Linked DNA regions of Homo sapiens: region 2 is linked to region 1. The links come from fine-mapping of genetic effects on gene expression. A gene starts in region 1. The other region holds a variant in brackets. All regions are shown on one strand. Distances are from middle to middle.

Region 1 (12,709 bases):
TAGTTAGGGCGAGGGTGGGGGGTCTCCCCTCAAGAGCCCAGTGAAAGGACAGGGCTCTATTGCCTTGAGATGAAAAGTGATGACTCTATCCCTAGCCAGGAAGGGTTTCAGGCAGTGCCTGTGGATGAGGTCCTGTCCCCCTCTGCCCACAAGAGGACCCCTCCAGGTGACCCTGCCTGTGGGGAAGAGGCTCAGCTGGAGGGAACCCTGGCAACAGGCAGGGCTCAGTCTTCACTCCACCTCCTCCCTTTCTGCCCTTCTCTCCAACAGCCAAATTCTGCCTGTAGGGAGGCCGAATTGCCTTAAAAGGAAACCTGTTTCTCAGAGTTCATGGAGTGCCTTAGAGGGACACTTGGCTCCTTCTTAATTGCCTTCCCAGCTCTCCGGCACAGAGGCCCTGCAGAAGGCTGGGACAAGAGAAGTTCCCAAGGTCAGAGTTCAGGCTGTACAGGTCAATGGTTAGGAAAACAAGAGCTGGGATTCGATCAATATGGATTTACCCCTTCCTAGCTGAATGATCTTGGGCAAGTTACTTTCCTTTCTGAGTGTCAATTTGCTTGTCTCTAAAATGGACCGTATATGGACTCCCTAAAATTCAGCTGTAAGGATTAAATGAGGAGGTATGGAAGTGATGGCCAGCACACTGTAAGTGCCCGCCCCTCTGACTACCACTCACACGACTGGACCAGTCATACGTCGACTCCACACTGCTAGATGTGGGCCAGCCATCCACATGTAGCTAGTCCACATATGGAAGGAGCGAGGCTTAAGAAGTACCATGCCAAATAGGGCCAGGAACTCCTGATTCATCTGCTAGCCCAGCGAATGAGTCTGGGACAAGTTACTTGCCCTTCTTTGGGGTTTAGCTCCCCCCAGCTGTCTGTGATGTCCCATTTCACTCTGTTGACCATCTCAACAGAGAACAGAGCTTGAATTTTCTACTGAATGGCTGGAAACACCTGGTCAGCTGTTTTCCTGAAACGGCTGGCGGCTAGAAGCCTGCTGTGTCTGCTGCTGCATCTTCCTAGCCTGGCTGTCCCATTAGGACTGTACCCAGATCCCCAGTTAGGACTGTACCCAGATCCTCAGCCTTGAGACAAGAAAGCCAAGGTGGCAGCTCTTACAGCAGCAGCAAAAGGAGAAGAAAAAGGTCACAGACTCTCAGTCACCCCAAATCTCATGAAAGTCAGGCTCGGCTGGGTGTGGTGGCTCACGCCTGTAATCCTTGCACTTTGGGAGGCTGAGGCAGGCGGATCACTTGAGGTCAGGAGTTCGAGACCGGCCTGGCCAATGTAGTGAAACCCCATCTTTAATAAAAATACAAAAATTAGCCGGGTATGGTGGCGGGCACCTGTAATCCCAGCTACTCCGGAGGCTGAGGCATGAGAATTGCTTGAAACAGGAGATGGAGGTTGCAGTGAGCAGCGATCTTGCCACTGCACTCCAGCCTGGGCAATAAAGCAATACTCAGTCTCAAAATAAATAAATAAATAAATAAATAAATAAATAAATAAAGTCTGGCTCAGGTGACAGGTTGAAGGAACCATCGCAGAGATGTAAAATCCCTAACTGCCAGCCACCAGTGTCTGAAGGCAAGCCCCTTCTTATCAAACCCTTCAAAACCATCCCATATCTTTATTTCTACAGTGGAAAAATCCCATCTCTCCCATTCCAAAATCATTTATTCCCTAGGGCCAAAGAGTGACTGACGGCACAGGGTTAAAGTCCCCATCCACTTGCTCCAGTAGAAACCTGTCAGATGTTTATCTAGCTCCCTCGCATTAGCTGAGCTGCTTGGTATCTGCCAGGTGGACAGGAGGGCTGGCATCCCTTCCAATCTGCAGCTCGGCTTTTGCCTCCACGCCCCAGTGTCCAGAGAGCAGCTGAGGGCAGAGAGAGGAGGGGGCTGGGCTGGTCAGGGCTCAGAGCCAAGTCTTAGAAGTGACACCTGAGAGCTCAGGAAATCAGCCTCTCCTGAAGCTCAGGGTCACGGGTAGGGGGAGAATGGCTGCCATGGAGATGGGGCAGGCTTGGCCTCAGCTTTCCATGTCCCACCTCATGTTTCCTTCAGAACCGTGCACATGACCCGCCTCTCTGAAAAGGTAACCAGCATCACTGAGCTACCATCAATCCAGGCCCCATGGGCCTCCAGAACTTGACTGTCATTCTAGGTCAGGAATCCTTCTCTCTATTGAATGAGCTTTCTCTTTTCAAATCCATGTCCAGTGGCCCTTGTGAGACTGTGAGCTGACAAGGGCGGTATATGTCTCTCCCTTTCCCCACTTGCCCCCAGTGCCTTCTAGAGCAGAGCTCCCTACTCTTGGAGTTCAGAAGTTTGCAGGGCGCAGTGGCTCATTCCTATAATCCTAGCACTTGGGGAGGCTGAGGTGGGTGGATCATTTAAGGTCAGGAGTTTGAGACCAGCCTGGCCAACAGCGTGAAACCCCATCTCTACTAAATATACAAAAAAAAAAAAAAAATTAGCTGAGTGTGATGGTGCACACCTGTAATCCCAGCTACTTGGGAGGCTGAGGCAGGAGAATTGCTTGAACCCGGAGGCAGAGGTTGCAGTGAGCCAAGATCGTGCCACTGCACTCCAGCCTGGGGGACAAAAGCGAAACTCTGTCTCAAAAAAAAGAAGTCTGAAGGTCAACACAGGTAGAAATGGAGGTCGATGACTTCTTTGTAGTATTTCAAAACTTCTACAGGAAATCCTGTATTATAATAAAGCCTCATAGACAAATTAACAGATGGGGTTTCCTTGCTTTTATCCAGATCTGTAATGATGTTGGTTATTCCATGCTGAACAAAATGGTCTGAATGATTTTTCTTTGATTAATTTTTTACAAGTTAAAACACATTAGCACTTAGGCCTTAAAAACACAGGTCGTTTGCAGCTGACATCCCAGGAAGCACCAACACACGCCACCCCTGCATAAAGAAAGCCAGGCACACAGTCGGGGGTAGGGGGTGCTGGCTGCCTAGCTGGGGCTGAGCTCCAGCTGCTAACCTTCCATTTCTTCCCCTGTTGTCACCGCTGAAGACTCAGACGCTGCCTTCTGGCCCTGGGGAAGCACTGGAAATACCAGAGTCTGGAAATGCTAGCTGCCCCCGTATTTACACACTTTACCATACATGGGAATTACTCAGTGCTGGCGTCAGACACATTCCTGGGTAGCTGCGTAGTACAGGCACGTCATTACCATATAAATTCTTGACAACTAGAAACAGCAGTCGGAACCCAGGACCCCTCCACCTCACCTTCTCTGCCCTCCCCTCAAGTTTTGCTAGCTCTCTCTTTCTCAAGCACGCTCTTTTCCAGGCTTGTTTTCTTTCTGCAAACCTGGCTCTGAAACTCAAACATGCAGAGCTGGTGAAAGCATATCCATTAGTGGCTGGGAACTAACTCTCAGGGGTCCCCTCTGCTCCTACCTGGCCATGCAACAGACTGAAAACCCGGAGGTCAGGAGTTCTAACCCTGATCCATCCAAGTGAAAGATATCTTCCTTAAATAGTTTATAAGCCACTGTAAAGCACCTTGTAAAGCTGATGTGTTTCACAAATGGCAGATATTTCCTTAGTGAGTTGATCTGGAAAAAGGAAATGTAGAGGAGCAAAGAAAAATAATAAGGTAGTGACTGAGCATACGTTTTGGAAACAGTCAGCTTATGTTTGAATGGCAGCTCCACAACTGATCAGCTGTGATCCTGAGCAAGTTTCTTACTACCTCTGAGCCTCAGTTTCTCCATTTGTAAAATGGAGAGCATCAGTAGCTACCTCATAAATTGTCCAAGATAACACATGTGAAGTATTTCTCACACTGTCTGGTACACTGCAAGTGCAGATATCTGGTTATCCTTATCTTAAGGAGAGGCCAACTCTAACACTTATCGTTCAGGTTTGTATCTCTTTTGATATTTGACAATATGCCCTGAGTAATGCCAAATGGCTGACTTGGAGGAAAAAGTCTTATTCTCACTAGCACCTCTTTGGATCCCAAAATATTTAACGCATGTGTCTTCATCTAGCAAGCCAACGTTTCACAATAAGCTAGGCTTACATACATATTTAAAACTTTAACAACCTGCCAGAAAAGCCTTCCCAATTTGCTTCCCACACCAGGGATGGACAGTGAATTAAAAACTATGTTGCTAGGCGCAGTGGGTCATGCCTGTAATCCCAGCACTTTGGGAGGCTGAGATGGTGGTGGGGACAGGGAGGGGATCACTTGAGGCCAGGAGTTCGAGACCAGACTGGCCAATATAGTGAGACGCTGTCTCCAAAAAAAAAAAAAACACCAGGCCGGGCGCAGTGGCTCATGCCTGTAATCCCAACACTTTGGGAGGCCGAGGCAGGTGGATCACCTGAGGTCAGGAGTTCAAAAACAGCCTGGCCAACATGGCGAAATGCCGTCTCTACTAAAAATACAAACAATTAGCTGGGCATATTGGCAGACACCTGTAATCCCAGCTACTTGGAAGGCTGAGGCAGGAGAATCGCTTGAACCCAGGAGGCAGAGGTTGCAGTGAGCCAATGTCACGCCATTGCACTCCAGCCTGGGTGACAGAGCAAGACTGCCTCAAAACAAAAACACACAAAAAAGCCCAAAAAAAACCTACGCCTTTTTTCTCTCACCTGCTTGTCAATCTACCCAAGTGGAAAAACTGGCTAGTAACTATTTGCAAGGTTTATGAGTATCCCGTAGGCCAACTCAGCTGAAAGACCATTGCTACCCCACTCATTCATCAAATGTTTGCTGATCACTCAGTCAAGTGTCACTACACTCCCAGGCTGCAACTCTGGCCCAGTCAGGACTCACTAGCTCCAGAGGCAGATGCACATGTGTGCAATTAAAAGAGCAAACACCTGGGCCAGGAAGGCAGGTGCTAAGACAGACCACAGGCAAATAGGCCACAGCACCCCTGTTTTTCCCATTTTATTAGCAGGCCAATTGCAGAGTTGATGGGCCTTCTCTTTAGTTTCTCTCCTGCTTCTTCTTCCCCATACCCTCCATCCTGGGCATCTCAGGCCTTGCAGACAGTTCTCTCCTCCCTCTCCTCTAACCCACACTACACCCTCTGCAGGATAAACTTCCTTCCTCGTCTGACTGCCTCCGCCCCGGATATCCTCTCCAAGGCAAAGAGTCATTCACTGGAAGACCGTGAGCAGGAGGAGGCTGGATTTAGGAAACAATGGGTAAAAGCTGCCCTCCAGCAGCTGAGGGCTGAGGACAGTCTCTCTCAAAAGAGGTAGCCAGAAACCAGCTGGAGAGTCAGGAGGCAGCAGTTGAGTGAGAGCAGTTGAGGGGAGGCTCAGTACCCATCCCCAAATCCCACCTGGGGAAAATCCCCAACATGCAGTCTGAGAGGACAGAGGGAGACAACCAGCACCTCCAGCCTCCTTAGCTTCTGGGAGGAAGGCAAGGGATGAGGGGAGGACAAGAAAGACAGTAACTGAGAGATCACTCCTGTGTTGGAGGTTCTGTGTAATATGCTCCCCAAGTAGCATCCCTGAAAGAAACTGAGACATTGAGAAGTTAAATAGTTTGTCCAAGGAAACCTGCGCGTTAAGTGGCAAATCCAAGAGTCAAAACTCTGCCTTCCAAACAATCCCACCAAGACTCCAAGCCACCTCTTCATGATATACTGATATACTTTCTACCAGGGCCCAGTGGATTTCCTCGGTGCCACTGTGATAGTATCCCAGCGTGGGGAGAGCCTGCCCATTCATTCACTCTCAGGGAGCAGCTGGTGGGTGGCTGGAGCCCAGGGCTCTAGGCAGAGCCTGAGCCCACTATTGCTCCAGCCGATTCCTGGGTCCTGGTTAGTTCACAACAGCACCAGAACCAGAAGCATGCAAAATATTCTCTAGTCTGTACCAGTAGATACAATACCTGCCTCAGAGGGCTGATTGTTAGCTAACACATTGTGATTTGCTTTAAATGTGCTCAATACCAGCCCCTTTATCACTTCCCAGCTTTCAAGGACTGAGGCCACAAAACACTGACTGCAGGCTCTTTCAGGTTTCAGTAACCATCACCACCTAGCACCAAGATTTGGAGTGGAGAGGTTTCCATGCAGTTATTTCACAAGAGGGAAAACTCACACCTGCGCTCAGGGACACAGATGTCCAAGGTCAGGCCCAGATGTTTGCCCCACCCCGCCCGCGGGCATTTTCTCCCCAGCAGGAGGGTGAGGGAGGGGGTGGCACGGATGCCCTCATCTCTCTGCCATACAATGAGCGTCAGTGGCGCGCAGAATCGCCGATTGTTCTGCCCGACTTGCAGGCGGTTGCGGGGAGCCGGGTCGCCCTGGGTCACGCACACGCGGAAGTCAACTGTGTCCAGGAAGCCCAGGAAGGCCCGGGATGGGGACGGACCTAGTGCCTCCAGAAAAGAGCAGCACTGCCCGGGCTAACTGCGGTCACTTCTCACAGTTCCCCGCCTGCGACAGCCCCGGGGCTGCGGCGGGGCTGGCAAGACCGGGAGGCGCTGAGTGCGTGCCCAGGCGCCCCTCCGCGGCGGGCAGAGCCGCGCGACTCAGGGCGCACTCACCTGGCAGCTGGCTCGGCGGCGCAGGGGCGGCAGGCGCTCTCGGAAGTGGCGGCTGGGTGCGCCCGGCCTGCGCGCCGTTTTGTTCCGCTCCGCGGAAGGCGTGTCCCGGGCCACGCCAACCAGTGGGCTTTGCACACTGCACCACTCCAGGGCTGATGTCATGGCGCGAAGCCCGGCGGTGCTGCCCTCCTAGGCCCCGGGAAGGCCGGCCGGCAGGGGCGGGGGCAGGAGTCGCCGACTCTGGGGGTGCTCCGAGCTCGTGCTGCGGTCCCACTGTGCGCCCTGTCGCCGCCACCGCGGAAAACGTCTTGCACGTGCGAGGGGCATTTCAGGAGTTTCCTGTCTGTCAGGTGAGAAGGCGGAGATATGACCTTAGAGGTCAGACCCATGATAAACTTGAGCCCCTAACGAAAGGGTGTCTCGAATTTACTTGTCCTGGTGGCAGAGGGTGAGGGACACATTTTGGGCGCCAGGGTAAGACAGACCCTTCCAGGGCAGGTCTGATTCTGCCCATCCACTCACTAGCTGGGCCCTGGGCCTAGACAGCCCTTCTGGGTTCAGGGTCATCTGTGAACGGCGTGTAATCTACAGGGATGTGAGGGGCTAAAAGGAGATCCGGTAGGACCCGCAGACCTTCAGCAGCACCCGGCATGTAATAGACACTCAATAAATGTAACTCCCCCCTCCAACAGCTCTTGCCCCTCAGTTTTTCCCAGTCTTCCCTGCTACCCTAAGGACAACACCTGGAAAAAGGTGTTCTCCCGCAAAAGCAGCAGTTCTGAAAAGTGGGTGCCTCCATAGAGGCTTTTCTCTGGGGCTCCAACCTTCAGTAGGACAGACACAGGCTCAGGCCACTCAAGCTGCCCCTGGGGCAGTTTCCAGGGGACATTCTGTCCACACCTCCTCACCCAGTCCCCAGCCCTTCCTGAGTGCCCCGTGCAGGCATTTCAGGGAGCAGAGAAGCTCACAGCCTCCAGCTGGTCACCCTACACCCCAGGTGGCCCATAGATGCAGCTGCTATGTCTTCCACCCTGGGCAGGTGTCAAGGGTTCAGGCCCCAACCGGCTTCACTTAAAGCCCTGGTTTGCTGAATCAACTTTTTGCCAGGAATAAAGTTAAGCATCTTATGATCTAGAAAATGAAGTATTTGGCCAGGCACTGTGGCTCACGCCTGTAATCCCAACACTTTGGGAGGCCGAGGCAGGCAGATTGCTTAAACCCAGGAGTTCGAGACCTGGTGAAACCCTGTTTCTACAAAAAAATTAAAAAAATTAGCCAGGCGTGGTGGTGTGTGCCTGTAATCCAAGCTACTCGAGAGGCTGAGGTGGAAGGATCACTTGAACTCAGGAGGCAGAGGTTGCAGTGAGCCAAGATTGCACCACTGCACTCCAGCCTGGGCGACAGAGCAAGAGTGTTTCTCAAAAAAAAAAGTGTTTATCTAGGTTTTTCTTGCTTTCTACCATAAGTAACATCTTTCCTTTGGCCAGGTCCATCCTATAAACAAGGCCCTCCAAGATTAAAATGTCTAGAAGCACACAACCAGTGTTTCTTGCAGATTGGGCCATCTTCATCTGACCCAACCAAGATGAAGGAGGAGAAACCAGAAGAATTTCTGGTCACGGCTGCACTGACTAAGCAATAGTTAAACAGGTCCATTAAACTGCAGAACCACCATCAGTGTCAGAGACCAAGGGCTTCCGCCCAAAGATGGCGATCCCATGGGATTTCCCCCTCTCCTTTCAATTCTCAGTATCTTGGAGAGATGAGCCTCGGAGTTTTGCCCAGGATTTTACAAAAGGGCAAACTCCTACATTACCTTCTTTGGTCTGGGTTTGTCCTCTCTGGAGTCATGGGACTGTTGATAGATTTCCCTGTGAGGACATGCCAACCTGTGCTGTGAAATGGCTTTAGGGTAGATCCAGAAAAAGAAGAGCAGTCACTGCAGTCACACTTGGATTTCTCCCAGATCTTAAAGCACCTTATAAACAGAATGGCTGTACAATGTGTCATCTAAACCAGAATGCTTTGGATAGTAAGTGGTATGTGGTAGTATTCGTAACTACACTAAGGCAACAGGACTATCTCAGGCAGTCCAGGGCAGATGGTCACCCCTCTTTTCCACCCAAAGACTGTCAGGTCACTTGTCTTAGGAGCTGTCTACGCAGAGCTACAGATGAAGCCAAGTAGGACCTGCCTTGTTTGGTGTTTTTCCAGAACCTCTCACCTTCTGACTATATTATTCTCCCAGCCTGCTGCCAGTTACTTGGGCTTGGTCTTAGATAGCACATTTGCAGATAAAGAAGACTTGAGGGATGAGGAAGGGCTTTGGGATTGAGTTGAGTCAAAGGTGATGCTGGGGTTACCCACCATGCAAACAGGAACAAGCCTGATGTTGAAATGACAGAAAAATCAGTAAACATCATCAATACTTGGGACATCCTTAAGGCAGAGATTCTCATTCTGCAGAGGTTCTCATTCTGGCTGACCTCATTTATATAACCATATCTAGACTGGCCCGAGCTGGTCAGCAGCACCCACATCTGCAGAGACAATGCAGTCAGAGCTCATCACCAATAAATTATCTGCTAGGGGTTCTAGAAGGAGGCTTGGCACACTTAGGGGCTTACCTGCTTCTCAGGACTCTCACAAATGTCTAACCTTTTCAGTATCTTTATGTTCTCTCTGTGCACTCTATTTCCCAACACTTCTGGGTTGGTATTTGATGGCTGCTAGGAATGAAGTGGGGCCTGTTACAGGCAGGAAGTAGGGCCCCTGTCCTCCAGCTTCCAACTTTGTCTGCTGCTTCCTCTGGCATCTTTTCTTCTCTTTCCTCCCTCATCAGCATCCTGATGCTACATCTTCTCTCTCCTCTCCTGTGGTGAAACCCTTCTTTTCCGCATTGATCCCAAGTGAAGAGGACCTGAGTGTGAGGCTGAGGAAAGAGTAAGGGAATGTGTCTGGCTTAGCTCTGCTCATCATCCCAGAGAAATTAGAGATCCAGTCTGGGCTGGAGATCTTCTTGTCCATCCTTCCATCCATCTGTCCATCCATCCATTCATTCATTCACCCATCCATCCATTTGTTCATCCATCTGTCTCTCCATCCATCCATCCCTCCCTCCATCCATCCATCCATCCATCCGTCCATCCACCTGTTCATCCATGTATCCATCCAACCATTCACTCAGAAGACATTTATTGGGGCCCCACTCTGTGCTGGTCTCTAGGTTCTGGGAATACAAGGAAGCCTATAATTTGGATCCTGACCTCAAGAAGTTTACTCATCTAATGGTCTAAAAAAAGAAAAAAAAAATCCAGCCCTAAACTTGCAGTTTGAGTCTCAGCTCTGTCATCTATGATTTAAAATACTAATGATGGCTGGCGCAGTGGCTCATGCCTTAATCCCAGCACTTTGGGAGGCCAAGGCCAGCAGATCACTTGAGGTCAGGAGTTCAAGACCAGCCTGGTCAACATGGTGAAACCCCATTTCTACTAAAAATAGAAAAATTAGCCGGGTATGGTGGCATGTGCCTGTAATCCCAACTACTGTGGAAGCTGAGACAAGAGAATCGCTTGAACCTGGGAGGTGGAGGTTGCAGTGAGGCGAGATCCAACCACTGCACTCCAGCCTGGGTGACAGAGTGAAACTGTGTCTCAAAAAAACAAAAAACAAATAAAATACTGTTGATAATGAGGAATAATTATAATTATTAAGCATTTACTACCTGTCAGGTACTTTACACAATTGTCCCCTTTAATCTTCGCAGTAGCTGTATGAAGTAAGGACTATTTTTACCCCCTGCTTTGCATGTGAGGAGACCAGGGCTTACAGCAGTAGCTAACTTAGTAGCTTTGTGACCATGGCCTAGGCCTCAGTTTTCCTCATGTGTGAAATGGGAGGTTGGACTAACTCAGTATTCTCCAAAATTTCCACTGAGGTACCTCTGACAGCAAAGAAGTAAATGTAAGGAACCCACAGTGTTGTCAGAATCAATCCACTCCCAGTCCTTGAAGTCTTGGGGTTTATTGCAAAAATTTATTTGAATTTTGCATTCTCCTTGGCACATAACTGTATTTGTCTTCATAAAAAGATAATGTTTAAAATGACTCACTGGCCAGGCACGGTGGCTCACACCTGTAATCCCAACCCTTTGGAAGGCTGAGGCAGGTGGATCATTTGAGTCCAGAAGTTTGAGACCAAGTTTGGCAACATGGTAAAACCCAGTCTCTACAAAATATACAAAAATTAGCTGGACATGGTGGCATGCTTGTAGTCCCAGCTACTAGGGACGCTGAGGTGGGAGGATCGCTTGAGCCCAGGAGGTAGAGGTTGCAGTGAGCCGTACTATACTCCACTGTACTCCAGCCTGGGTGATAAAGTGAGACCCTGTCTCAAAAAATAAATGAATAAATAAATAAAATTACTTACTGTTCAGAGAAATGGAGTTCTTAGGAAATGTATCGTGCTTGGTGGGTAGTATCTCTGTGGGCCCCTGGGAATATGACTAGGCCCGCCTACCCACGTGGGTGATCTGCAAGGCTCTCCCTGGCTCTGGCACTGTTCGGCTGTGCCTAGGCTAGGATGAGGCAAGTCAAAGGGGGCTTGTGGAATAAGGCCCAGCATTTGCTTTCAGTCCCTGTATTCATGTTTTCTAAGGAAGATTCCTAGAATCTCTCAGGGTTTGCTGGAGAAATGAGCTTGGCAGCCAGAGGCAAATGAAAATCGGAAAAGGCAGTGTATACATGTTATAAGAATAAAATGCTTAGAGGCAAGAAAAGGAGAAATCCATTTAGAAAGGAACAAAATAAAAACTCTAGGGGGTTCCTGATCCAGAAATCTCTTCTGATTTTCAGGCTGAAATTTACACTGTGAAGCTCCAGGGGAGCTTGAAAGGTGATATTCAGAAATGCACTGGGGTGGCTCAGGGTTGGGTCCTTAAGAACACTGTGAAACAGTCTAGATAGGTTTTTAAATGACCACTTCCTCTTCCCCTCCCCTTGGCCTGAAATTGATGTAAGGTCACTTCCCTCCTGCTCCCTCTGCAGCCACTGCCTCTGTCCCAAACAGGCAAAACTGTGGAGTGGCTCTCACAGCCAAAGTGTGGGGAGGGGAAAGCAGGAGGAGCTGGGGACTCAGGGCGGGAGCAGGCGGCAGGGAGCTCCCGGGCAGCTGGCTGTGCATGGCTCCACTGTTCCGAGCCTGACAGGCTCTAGGGAAGTGTGGCCACAGGGAGCTGGCTGAAGGCTCAGGAGAGGCTTTTCTGACAGGCCCAGTTCCAATCACGCCAGCTCCTAATCTACTGATCAGTTTGCTTTCCTCCTGCTTTAAAATCTCTTTCTCCCTGTTCTCCTGGTCCCTAGCCACACCACCTTCACTGCTCTGATCTTATCTATGATCACCTGGCCAATCTACTTAAAGCAGTGAAGTAGACTGAAAATAACCAGACTTTCGGCAAAACTCTTTTTTTTTTTTTTTTTTTTTTTTGAGACGGAGTTTCAGTCTGTTGCCCAGGCTGGAGTGCAGTGGGGCGATCTATGCTTACTGCAACCTCCACCTCCTGGGGTCAAGCGATTCTCCTGCCTCAGCCTCCCAGCCTGGGACTACAGGCATGCGCCACCACACCCAGCTAATTTTTGTATTTTTAGTAGAAACCCTGCAACACGGCGTTTCACCATGTTGGCCAGGCTGGTCTCAAACTCCTGGCCTCAGGTGATCCGTGCACTTCGGCCTCCCAAAGTGCTGGGATTACAGGCGTCAGCCACTGCACCCGGCCTTGGCAAGACTCTTGACTCCTCTCCTCCATCAGGGTCGATTATATTAAATTACACTGACAGAAGAAAGGATTGGATGACTTTTGAAGAACTATTTCAACCCAAAGACAAGCTAAGGAAACATTGAGTTCACTCACCTGGAAGGTCTTGGAGGGCAGGAATTGTAGCTTACCCTCCTTTGTAGCCACACAGAGCCTTACATGGAGTAGGTGCTCAGTATTTTATGAATGTGTGCGTGGATAAATCCATAGTTTGCAAGAAACCACGAATAAGCTTGCCACCTGCTGGTGAACTTGTGAAAGACACCTCGCCGCACCTCGGCTCCCCCAAGTGGCCATACACTGTAATCCTAAGAAAACCCTCAGCTTGGACAATCCTTTCTTTC
Region 2 (12,709 bases), 860 kb after region 1:
ACTTGGATTTCTGAATGAATGGAGAGACAGAGTTGAGAGAACCAGCTGAGTGAATGGAGATGAGAAAAAAGTGTAGTACAATTCTAGCTTGTGAGTCTGAAAGAATTGTGTTATTCAGGTAGAAATAGTATTCAGTCAACGATTAGACTGAGGTACTCTGAAGACGTACAAATAGAAATCTCCTATAGGTGTTTAGCATGGTGGCCCATATCTGTAATCCCAGCACTTTGGGAGGCCAAGGCGGGAGGATTGCTGGAGACCAGGAGTTTGAGACCAGCCTGAGCAATGTGGTGAGACCCTATCTCTCCAACCCCCTCCCCACCCAAAAAAAAATTAGCCAGGTATGGTGGTGCAAACATGTGGTCCCAGTTACATAGGAGGCTGAGGTGGAAGGATCACTTGAGCCCAGGAGGTTGAAGCTGCAGTGAGCTGTGTTCACACCACTGCACTCCAGCCTGGGTGACAGAGCAGAGCAAGACTGTGTCTCAAATAAATAAGTAAGTAAGTAAGTAAATATCCTGTAGGTATCTATGTGACTCAAGGCTAGTCACTTTCCTATCTATGCTCCAGTTTTCTCATATTTGAGACAAGAGACTTGATTTTAGCATAAAGGTGAGAGTTGAAGTAATGAGTGTGAAAGAGGAAAGGGAGAAAACATACAGAGAAGAGCAGAAAACACAAGCAGCTGGTAGGCAGAGAATGCAGAAATTCAAGTTAGAGCTGTTGGAAGATGTGGTAGGCTGACTAATGGTGCCCCAAAAATGTCTAAGTCCTAATCCCCAGAACATGTAAATATGTTACCTTACAGGGTAAAAGAGACTTTGGGGATATGATTAATTTAAGGATCTTGAGATAAGGAGATTAGCCTGGATTATCCAGGTGAGCCCAATATAATCACAAGCATCCATATAAGACAGGCAAGAGAGCAGAATCAGAATAGGAGATGTGATGAAGGAAGCAAGAGATTGCAGGGATTCCAGGAAGGTTCTGTGAGCCAAGGAATGCAGGTGGACCCTAGAAGCTGAAAAAGGCAAGGAAGTGGATTCTTCTCTCAGAGCCTCCACATAAGGAACCAGCCCTGCCAGCAATTTGACAACTCAGCCCAATGAGACTGATTTCAGACTTTTTTTTTTTTTTTTTGAGACTGAATTTTGCTCTTGACCCCTAGGCTGGAGTGCAGTGGCACAATCTTGGCTCACTACAACCTCCGCTGCCCGGGATCAAGCGATTCTCCTGCCTCAGCCTCCTTATTAGCTGGGATTACAGGCGCCCACCACCACAACCAGCTAATTTTTGTATTTTTAGTAGAGACGTGGTTTTGCCTTGTTGGCCAGGCTGGTCTCAAACTCCTGACTTCAGGTGATCCACCCGCCTTGGCCTCCCAAGGATTACAGGTGTGAGCCACTGGGGATTACAGTTGTGAGCCACTGCATCTGGCCATGATTCAGACTTCTGACCTCCAGAATGCTATGATAATAAATTTGTGTTGTTTTAAGCAACTAAGTTTATGGTAATTTGTTATAGCAGCAATAGGAAACTAATACAGAGAAGAACCGACAAACAGTGATATTGAGGTATTTCAAGGAATGGATGGTAAATAATGTAAAAGGAAATTGAGGAGAAGGCCTGTAAAAAGACTGTTGGATTTGGTCATTTAAACTTTGAAAGAGCACTTTCAGTAGAGATATTTTTGAAGACTTTTGTGGAGGTTATATGAAGTTTTTTTTTGCATTAAGGATAACTTGTCTTTCTGTTGACTTTTGGGAGAAAAAATATAGATTTTCCATCAATATAATTGTAATTTAAATGAGGGCCCAAAATATGTGGCAAGACACTTTAAAAGCTGAATTCTGGCTAGTTCAGGTGGTTTCATTATTCATCAGTTAAGAATATTTTAGGATATTAAACCTGATAATAGGGGCAAGAAAGTTATGTCCCTATTACTGATGGCTGCTTATCTAGTTTATTTTACTTCTCAGTCTAGTTTGGCCCATTTCCCACTCATTAGCACTTCCACTGGAAGGCAGCCTTGGGGGAACAGTGATAGGGAGGTTAGTACCAATAAACAGTTTTTTCTGCCATTCTCTTACATTTATTTCTTGAGTGTCTACTGTGTATCTGATTCTGTGCTGCTTGTTACTTTTACTTAGCAGTAGATACAATTTAGAAACTAACTTGAATTTTGGGATTGGTCTCCAGAATAGTTGGTTACTATTATAACTTATAATAGGAAATTGGCTACATAACCGATTTCTGTTCTAGCATTCTGGCTCTTGAGGAGTGTCAGGGGAGTACTATATTTATCAGTATTTGAGACTATTTTATGCTTATGGAGGAGAATTACATATATATCTTCTCTAAGATGGTGAAATATGGAGGTTTGGGATGTCTAATAAATCTTTAATGGTTCAACATAGTAATAATAAATCCAGATTAAGACCTTGGCCCAGAATGTCATATAGGACAAGGAATTGAAGCCTCATTTGGATTGCTAATTGAGTGCTTGCCCAATTTGTTGATGTTGTTTTTGTCTGTGAATATGTTGGGGTTTTTCCTGCTTTTGAAGTGTCATTTAAAAAAATTGTTTCTTCTGATCTTAGATTGTAACCAGTTTGAGTAAAATTTGGGGGCTTAAAGTTTTATCAGGCATGCAGAGTTTATGTTTGTTTCATGAGGCAATTCAATTGAAAAACTGAAGCTTTGCCCAGGCGCGGTGGCTCACGCCTGTAATCCCAGCACTTTGGGAGGCCAAGGCAGGCAGATCACGAGGTCAGGAGATTGAGACCATCCTGGCTAACACGGTGAAACCCTGTCTCTACTAAATATACAAAAAATTAGCCGGGCGTGGTCGCACGCGCCTGTTGTCCCAGCTACTCGGGAGACTGAGGCAGGAGAATCACTTGAACCCGGGAGGTGGAGGTTGCAGTGAGCCAAGGTGGCACCACTGCACTCCAGCCTGGGTGACAGAGCGAGACTCCGTCTCAAAAAAAAAAAAAAAAACTGAAACTTGAGTTTTCAGTATTGGAAATTGACTTGCATGTGGTTTTTAATGAAATATTCTACTTCATTATAGTTATGGAATAGGTTTATACAAAAATTTAGAGATGATTTTATATTTAGTATACTTAAATGTTATGACACAGTGATAATCTGTTAGAATATTAATCTAATGCAAATTTGGGGAATATTTTATGGTGCCATGCTCTAAATATTCATGATATATCTGGCATGATATATGTATCTGGTTTTTCTGTATTAATTATTGGTCTAGTGACTCTCTTTTAAGCATTTTATTATGGAATATTTCAAAATAGAAGATACAAAAGTAGAGAGAATGGTATAATGAATTCTCAAAAGTGATCAACTTATGGCCAATCTTGTTTCATTTATAGATCCTCATCTCCAGTATACTGGATTATTTTATAGCCAATCCTAGATATCACATAATTTTTTTTTTTCTTTTGAGATGGAATTTCACTCTTGTTGCCCAGGCTGGAGTGCAGTGGTGCGATCTTGGCCCACTGCAACCTCCACCTCCCAGGGTGTCTCAGCCTCCCAAGTAGCTGGGATTAGAGGCATGTGCCCCCACGCCCGGCTAATTTTGTATTTTTAGTAGAGACAGGATTTCACATGTTGGCCAGGCTGGTCTCAAATGAACTCCTGACCTCAGGTGATCCACCTGCCTCAGCCTCCCAAAGTTTTGGGATTACAGTCATGAGCCACCGTGCCCAGCTTATATTTTATTTGTAAATATTTCGATATATATCTCTAGAACGTAGAAATTTAAATTAAAAAAAAATCAGCTGGGCGTGGTGGCTCATGCCTATAATCCTAGCACTGGGAGGCCAAGGCAGGTGAATCACCGGAGGTCAGGAGTTTGAGACCAGCCTAGCCAACATGGTGAAACCCTGTCTCCACTAAAAATACGAAAAATTAGCCAGGCGTGGTGGCGTGTGTCTGTAATCCCAGCTACTGGCGGTGGGGGGTGGGGGTGGGGGGCGGTGCTAAGGCAGGAGAATCACTTGAATCCGGGAGGCGGAGCTTGCAGTGAGCTGAGATCTCGCCACTGCACTCCAGCCTGGGTGACAGAGTGAGACTCTGTCTCAAACAAAAACAAAAACAAAAACAAATTTCATTGGCACACCTAAAAGTCAAAATCTTGTTTCTTAAAATTATATTTTAGTAGTGTTTAAGTTTCCCTGATTGTTCACAGGTGTGTGTGTGTGTGTTTTAACAGTTGGTTTATTCAAGTCATGATTCAAATAAGGTCTGTTTTGATTGATACGTATTTTAATCTATGGTTTCCTCCTCATTTTTTTTCTCTTACCTTATTTGTTGAAAACCTGGGTTGTTTGTACTTTAGAGTTTCTCTACAACCTAGATTTTTCTGACTGCTTGCTTGTGGTGTTAAGGTGTTCTTTTGTCCCACGTGTTTTCTATAAACTAGTAATTAGAGATTAGGTCTGATTCAGATTCCAATTTTTTGGTAAGAGTACATCATAAGTGGTGGTATGTACTTCCATGAGAAGGCAAATAATGTCAGGTTATCTCTCTTTGTGATTTAGTGGCCATTGATGGCCTGCAAAAATTTTGAAGTTTCAAGCCAGTCTTGACTAGACCTGAATTCCATTAATTAGTGAATTATTCTAATTATCATCACATCACAAGAAGCTCCTTGTATTGCGCTTCTAATTGGGTTACCAGTGATCAGCTTAAAAAATGTAAATTGGCCGGGTGCAGTGGCTTACACCTGTAATCACAGCACTTTGGGAGGCCGAGGTGGGAGGATCACCTGAGGTCAGGTGTTCGAGACCAGCCTGCCAAACATGGTGAAACCCTGTTTCTACCAAAAATAAAAAATTTAGCTGGGGCTGGTGGTGGACACCTGTAATCCCAGCTACTTGGGAGGCTGAGGCAGGAGAATCGCTTGTACCTGGGAGGTAGAGGTTGCAGTGAGCCGAGATTGCACCATTGCACTCCAGCCTGGGCAACAAGAGTGAAACTCCGTCTCAAAAAAAAAAAAAAGTAAATTGTGAATAAAATAGTTAACATAGGTTTAGTGTATTGACTGTTGCAAGGCTTGACAAGGTGCCTAATGTTGAGATTAGTAGTACCCTTCGTATGTAAATATTTTCCGTGATTGGCAGTGGAGTAAACTTTTTCTACTGTCATTTCATATCTTTACCATTAGCTCTTTTTTTTTTTTTTTTGAGACGGAGTCTTGCTCTGTCACCCAGGCTAGAAGACAGTGGCGCGATCTCGGCTCACTGCAAGCTCCACCTTCTGGGTTCATGCCATTCTCCTGCCTCAGCCTCCTGAGTAGCTGGGACTACAGGTGCCCGCCACCACACCTGGCTAATTTTTTTGTATTTTTTTAGTAGAGACGAGGTTTCACCGTGTTAGCCAGAATGGTCTCGATCTCCTGACCTTGTGATCCGCCCGCCTCGGCCTCCCAAAGTGTTGGGATTACAGTTGTGAGCTACCGCTCCCGGCCTCCATTAACTCTTAACTGAAGTTCCCTATATTAGTCTGTTTTTGTTGCTATAAAGGAATACGTGAGACTAGGTAATTTATAAAGAAAAGAGGTTTAATTGGCTCACAGTACTGCAGGCTATACAGGAAGCATGAGGCCAGCATCTGCTCATGGTGAGGGCCTCGGGAAGCTTACAGTCATGCAAAAGGCAAAGGGGAAGCAGGTGCATCACATAGAGCAGGAGAAAGAGAGAGAGGTGGGAGGTACCATACTCTTTTAAACAATCAGATCTCCTGTGAAGAGAAGAACTCACTCATTGCCATGGAAAGGACACCATGCCATTTATGAGGGAGCTGCCCTTGTAATCCACACATTTCCCACCAGGCCCCACTTCCAAAATTGGGGATCACATTTCAACATGAAATTTGGAGGGCACAAATATCCAAACCATATCATTCCCCTTATTTTGAAATATTGTTCAGAATTCCAGTTCAGTAATATGGTTTCTTATTCCCTAAGTCAACTGCCAGCCCTTGAGGTCCATTATGAAAGAAAACTTCAAAGGGAACGCTCCAAAGAAAACTAAAAAAAAAATAGTAACTTGGCGGTGCAAGGAGAAGAAAGAGACCTGCTTTATAAGAGATAGGAAGAGTGTCCATTCTAGCTACATCAGTTTTGGGCAGTCAACTGTGGGCAAATGATGTGCTTGTCTTAGAAAATGGAAGTGACATTGGGGCATTCATATGGAGATTGGGTTGATTGGCTGGCTTTTGTTGTGCTCTTTGAGGCCTAAGAGAAATTGGCCCTTCTAATTGAATGTGAATTTCACAGTGGGATGTATGGTTTTATGAACTGTTTTATTTATATGCGGGCATTTCAGGGGAGGCAGATTACTTTTTTTTTTTTTCCTGCTTCTTGGCAACATTTTTGCCAGGTTTCTTTTTTTAGTTAGTGATTTTTATTTTTTTTAAAGTTGGTTGGTCTAGCGATGAAATGTGACGTTAAAATGCCAAAACAGATTGTGTTTGGGTCCTGTGGATGCAGCTTCACTGTTTTGTAATTATTCCTCTTGTATTGATTTTCCTCCCCATGTTTAAATTGTTCCTCCTTGACAGTAGATAGCATGAAAAATGAGGTCAAAAGAATAACTCACCTCATTATAAATCACTAGGGGTAATGGAAAGTGATTCTGAAGGATGACCAGGATTCCTTCCATCTGTTAAGAATCATTTC[A/G]CCTGTTGAAGAGTTCCTACAGCACAAGGACTCTAGTGGTGAGCCGCATCCATTCCAACTTCACAATTGCCGTACAGGGCTAGTATTAGGAGAATTTGACTGCTAGAACTCTAAGTGCTTAACAGGTATTTTTTAAAGCAGGCAACATCTTTATCATTGGCACCAGTTTTCAGTTGAGAGTGGAGACTGCCTTGCTTCAGCTCTGTGTGTGCTATAGCCAGTTCATGACAGAATCAGCAAGGCCCAGGGTTTTTGTTTTTTTTTTTTGTAATAAGGAAATAACTTTGAAAAATTAAAATTATAAATTTAATTTTTCTGCTCATTACCTAAATTATTGCAAGAAGATTATCTTCATTTTTCTTAATATCAAGATAAATGTTCTGTCCTGTCTCTATAATGCACTTCTGTAGTTTGAATGTTTATTTATTTATTTATTTATTTATGTTTGAGACAGAGTTTCCCTCTGTTGCCCAGGCTGGAGTGCAATGGCACGATCTTGGCTCACTGCAACTTCTGCCTACTGGGCTCAGGTGATTCTTGTGCCTCAGCCCCCTGAGTAGCTGGGACTACAGGCATGCACCATCATGCCCAGCTGATTATTGTATTGTTATTGGAGATGGGGTTTCGCCATGTTGATCAGGCTGGTCTGGAACTCCTGGACTCAAGTGATCCACCCATCTTGGCCTCCCAAAGTGCTGGGATTGCAGGCATGAGCCACCATATCCAGCCTGTAGTTTGAATCTTTAAACAGTCAAATGATCTGTTATTAATTTTGGGGGGCACATTTGTATTGAGCACTTCCTGGATGCCAGATGCTGTTGTATACTGGGATACAAACATGGCATACAACTGTGTCTTGCTCTCAGGCATCCCACAGTTACTGACAAACTCATAATTTTAAAGATCTATTCTGGTCTATATTGCTTGTACTTCATGTTGATTCCATTTCCTATTAATCTGTTCATAGTAAAAGTGGAGAAAAGGGTATTGATCATTATCTACACATTTACCTTTGTATGTTTTAAGATAATCAAGACCTTGTCATTAGCCTTCTCTAATAAGGATAAACATGTGCATTCTTTAATTTAGTTTCCAAATCATTAATCGTTTTGTCTATCTCTCCTGGGAATTTCTAGTTCCCTTTGGGTCCCCTGGCTCTGTGAGAAGAGACTGTAATGTCTTCAGCTCTGGGGACCACCACTAGGGTGAAAGACTATTATAGGACCACTTGAAAGTACAGAGTTGCAGGACTGTCAGATATGCGTTTGTTTTATTAGAAGATTATGAAGTTCCAGGATATTATAGCAAAAAGAACATTAGAGGACACCATTTGACCCACCTGTGCCATTTTATTTTATTCTATTTATTTATTTAGAGACAGAGTCTCCTGTTTGTTGCCCAGGCTGGAGTGCAGTGGTGCGATCTTGGCTCACTGCAGCCTCTGCCTTAGGGTTCAAGTGATTCTCCTGCCTCAGCCTCCCAAGTAGCTGGGACTACAGGCACACGCCACCATGCCCAGCTAATTTTTGTATTTTTAGTAGAGACGGGTTTCACCATATTGGCCAGGCTGGTCTCGAACTCCTGTCATCAAGTGATATGCCTGCCTTGGCCTCCCAAAGTGCTGGGATTACAGGTGTGAGCCACCATGCCTGGCCCATTTTATTAATACAAATGAGAAATATGAGGCCTAGAAAAAAGCTAAAGGAATACCTTAAGCATGGTACAGAAATAAGATATAATGAAATGTTCTATTTATCAAACTTCTGCTTGATATTCTTTTCTGTCTATGGAAATGTAGTTATTTGCAAATTATTAGTACTTTGAGAAGAAGCAAAATGTGCTCTAAATTCTTTTGAAGAACTTTTGAAGAAGGATGATACCTTATAGTTGTATTCCTCTTTCAAAAACTTCAAAGTAATAGAAACATCAGGGGTCATTATTCATGTTCCAAGATAACTAATCTAAGGATTCTATTAAGAATTGGTTTTACATTTGACTTATTCATCTCTATATGTATCTACTACTAAGCAACATGATAACATTGCAAGGTCTTACTCTGTCACCCAGGTAAGAGAGCAGCGGCTCAATCATGGCTCACTACAGCCTTGACTTCCTGGGCTCAAGCATTCCTCCTGCCTCATTTTTTAATTTTTTAATTAATTTATTTATTTTTATTTATTTATTTTTTTTGAGACGGAGTCTTGCTCTGTCACCCAGGCTGGAGTGCAGTGGCATGATCTCGGCTCACTGCAAGCTCCGCCTCCTGGGTTCACGCCATTCTCCTGTTTCAGCCTCCCGAGTAGCTGGGACTACAGGCGCCCGCCACCATGCTCGGCTAAGTTTTTGTATTTTTAGTAGAGACGGGGTTTCACTGTGTTAGCCAGGATGATCTCGATCTCCTGACCTCGTGATGGGCCCGCCTCGGCCTCCCAAAGTGCTGGGATTACAGGCGTGAGCCACGGCGCCCGGCCTCATTTTAAAATTTTTTGTAGAGATGTGGTCTCACTGTGTTGCCCAGGCAGGTCTTGAACTCCTGGGCTCAAGCAGTCCTTCCACCTCAGCCTCCCAAAGTGCTGGGATTGCAGGCATGAGCTACCGCACCCAGCCAGCAAAATTTTTTAAAACAAAAAACAATTAGTACAAATACCACCCTAACATATTAATTGGTTTTTTTTCCTTTGTTCTTCCTCAGGCTGTCTTAGCTTTTGCAAATATTTTAACATAGTTGAACTCATGGTATGTTAAAATTACCATAAGTACTGTGGCCAGCTTTAGTGGCTCATGCTTGTAATTCCAGCACCTTGGGATGCCAAGGCGAGAGGATCACTTGAGGCCAGGAGTTTGAGACCAGCCTGGGCATTTTTAGAGACAGGGAAATCCTAAGTCTAAAAAAAAAAGCCAATTGTGGTCGCCTGCAGTTGTGGCTACTCAGGAGGCTGAGGCAGGAAGATTGCTTGTGCCAGGGTGGTTGAGCCAAGATTACACCACTGCATTCCAGACTAGGCAACAGAGTGAGACAGTCTCTAAAAAAGAAAAAAAAAAAGTAATTTTTACTGAGTGCTGCTTTATACCAAGTGTTGCTATGCATTTTGCTTTTTAAAAATTATCTTTACATCAACAGCTCTACCAAATAGGTGGTTTATTCCACTTAATGATGAGGAAGAAGAATCAAAGAAGGTAATTTGTCCTAACCTAGGGATCACACGTCATGCTGGTATTTAAATTCACATCTGTCTGACTCAGAAGCTTTTAGTCTTCTACCTAGGTTGTGCTGGTTTTCTGAAATCCTGGCTCACCTCTCCATTTAGACCTCTTTATTTTTTTAAAAGCCTCTTAGCACCTGTAATGACAGCACTTTGGGAGGCTGAGGTGGGCGGATTGCTTGATCTTAGCCTGGGCAACATAGCAAAACCCCATCTCTACAAAAATACAAAAATTAGCTGGGCATGGTGGCATACCTCTGTAGTCCCAGCTACTCAGGAGGCTAAGGCGGGAGGATTACCTGAGCCTGGGAGTTTCGGGCTGCAATGAACTATGATTGCACCGCTGCACTCCAGCCTGGGTGACCGAGCAAGACCCTGTCCCTCCACTCCCGCCCCCCCACAAAAAAACCTCTTAGAGACATAGTTTTATAGAGATAGGATTCTTTTAGCATTCCATTACTACTGAGATTTTTATATTATCAGAATTCTGCACCTACTCAGTGTGAAGTAATAGCTAAAGCATTGTTTTCCTACCTCCTTCATGTCATGGTATACACAGAAGACGACATTTGTGTAAGACCCCTGGTAAACTAGAGAATATTTGCAAATTTGGTATAAAAATTCATTGTTGCTGGGTGTGGTGGCTCATGCCTGTAATCCCAGCACTTTGGGAGGCTGAGGCGGGCAGATCACTTGAGGTCAGGAGTCCGAGACCAGCTTGGCCAACATGGCGAAGCTCCGTCTCTACTAAAAATACAAAAATTAGCCAAGCATGGTGGCACATGCCTGTAATCCCAGCTACTCGGGAGGCTGAGGCAGGAGAATTGCTTGAACTGGGAGGCGGAGGTTGCAGTGAGCCAAGAACGCACCACTGCACTCCAGCCTGGGAGACAGAGCGAGACTCCATCTCAAAAAAAAAAAAAAAAAAAAAAAATCAGTTGTGTTTTCTTAATACAGTAATGATAACAAAATACATTAAAAATCAGACATTGAGCAACAGAATAAAAATGTATGAATATTAAATAAATAGACTAAGAAACTACAAAATTATGTTTTATTTAGGAACACCTAATAATACCAGATGTATTAATAATGATGATGTTGATTATAATGCTTTTGATGACAAACATACATTTAGAAATTGTGGTGCTATTAGAGCAAATTAAATAGAAAACTTCATTTACATATGGGTGCAAAACGTAGAACCTCACTGATTGTTAAACAATGTAGACTAAAATAAAAATATAGACTAAAATGATTCAACAGGAAGATCAAGAGAAGGGGCTATTTCATGGAGTCACTGTACTGTGCCATGTGCATAGTTTTATGTACCAAAACTATGGTACTTAAGTGGTTCCATATAGTGAAGTCATGTGCATAGTTTTCTGTACCAAAATTATAATTAGGAAGTTTATGTAGAGAACTATATGAATTAAATATAACTTTACCCATCCTGAATTTTTAGTTGGTTGCAAAACATTTTTAATACAATACAAAATTTTATTCAGAAGATCTTTACATTACACTACTTATAAGCCATTTTAGAACAATAAATGATTGGGAAGATCTGATATAAAGCCTTTTAGCTCTAACGTATTGATAGTAAGCATTCAGTAAATATTGAGTATTGTTATGTTTAGTTAGTAAAGCAAAGTGGTTAAGATTATGAGCTTTGGAATCAGACATAGTTGGTTTCTAATCCTGGTTTTGCTACTTACATAAGCTTTATGTAAGCTGTCTGTGCACAGTGCCTTATTCTTAGTAGGCATTTAGGTGATTTTCTTTTAGACTAAGATGAGGATAAAAATCTTTAGTGAGTCTTACCGTGACCTACCAGACACTGTATCATCTGATCCCCCATTAGCTCTCAGTACTTGTCTTTCCCTTGTTCAACCCATTCCAGTCACATTAGTGTCCTCCTTGTTTCTCAAAAACTCCAGTTGCTAGGAATAGATGCTTAAGGGCCTCACATCTGTTTTTCCTTCTGCCTGGAATGCTATTCCATCAGCTACACACATGGCTTGCAAATGTCACCTTTGTAGTGAAGCACTTCCAGGCCATGATATCTAAAAATTTCAGATGAACTTTCCTCACCTTCTCATTTTTTTAAATTGAGGTAAATTTTACATATAGTAAAATGCATAGAACTTAAATCTACAGTTTGATGGGTTTTGACAACGTATACAACCATGTAACCAATATGGTTTGGATATCTGTCCCCCGCAAATCTCATGTTGAGATGTAATCTGCAATGTTGGAGGTGGGACCTGGTGGGAAGTGTGTGGGTCATACGGGAGGGTCCCTCATGGTTTGGTGCTGTTCTCAAGATAGTGAGTGCAGTCTCAGGAGATCTGTTTTTTTTTTGTTTTTTTGTTTTTAGAGACGGAGTTTTGCTCTTGTTGCCCAAGCTGGAGTGCAGTGGTGTGATCTCAGCTCACTGCAACCTCCGCCTCCCAGGTTCAAGCGATTCTCCTGCCTCAGTTTCCCGAGTAGCTGGGATTATAGGCGCCTGCCACCACACCCGGCTAATTTTTTGTATTTTTAGTAGAAACAGGGTTTCACCATGTTGGCCAGGCTGATGTTGAACTCCTGACCTCAGGTGATCTGCCTCCCTCGGCCTCCCAAAGTGCTGGGATTACAGGTGTGAGCCACTGCGCCCGGCCAAGATCTGGTCATTTAAAAGTGTCTGGCACTGCCCCCCGCAACCTTGCTCCCATTCTCGCCCTGTGATGTGCTTGCTCCGCTTCGCCCTCCACTGTGAGTAAAAGCTCCCTGAGGCCTCCCCAGGAGCCAAGCAGAT

What was found. PIP is the estimated chance that this variant, and not a neighbour inherited with it, causes the effect.
Region 2: its variant is fine-mapped to the expression of CSRP1-AS1 in uterus (GTEx, PIP 0.95).

What each region holds. Positions count from the first base shown.
Region 1 is chr1:201,500,517-201,513,225 of GRCh38, forward strand. CSRP1-AS1 (CSRP1 antisense RNA 1) reads left to right here and starts at 6,697. Exons shown (of 2, transcript NR_160747.1): 1 at 6,697-6,903. CSRP1 (cysteine and glycine rich protein 1) reads right to left here and starts at 6,607. Exons shown (of 6, transcript NM_004078.3): 1 at 6,554-6,607. LOC124904484 (a long non-coding RNA gene) reads right to left here. Exons shown (of 2, transcript XR_007066793.1): 2 at 9,208-9,485. RefSeq lists silencers at 6,309-6,938, 11,470-11,549 and an enhancer at 11,700-11,909.
Region 2 is chr1:202,355,699-202,368,407 of GRCh38, forward strand. All of the region lies in intron 1 of PPP1R12B (protein phosphatase 1 regulatory subunit 12B), which reads left to right. Among named protein-coding and RNA genes, the nearest start is that of PPP1R12B, 13 kb to the left of the region's middle. RefSeq lists enhancers at 3,188-4,139, 5,542-6,284, 6,285-7,026, 8,622-9,359. The variant A/G (reference allele first, on the strand shown) is at 6,707.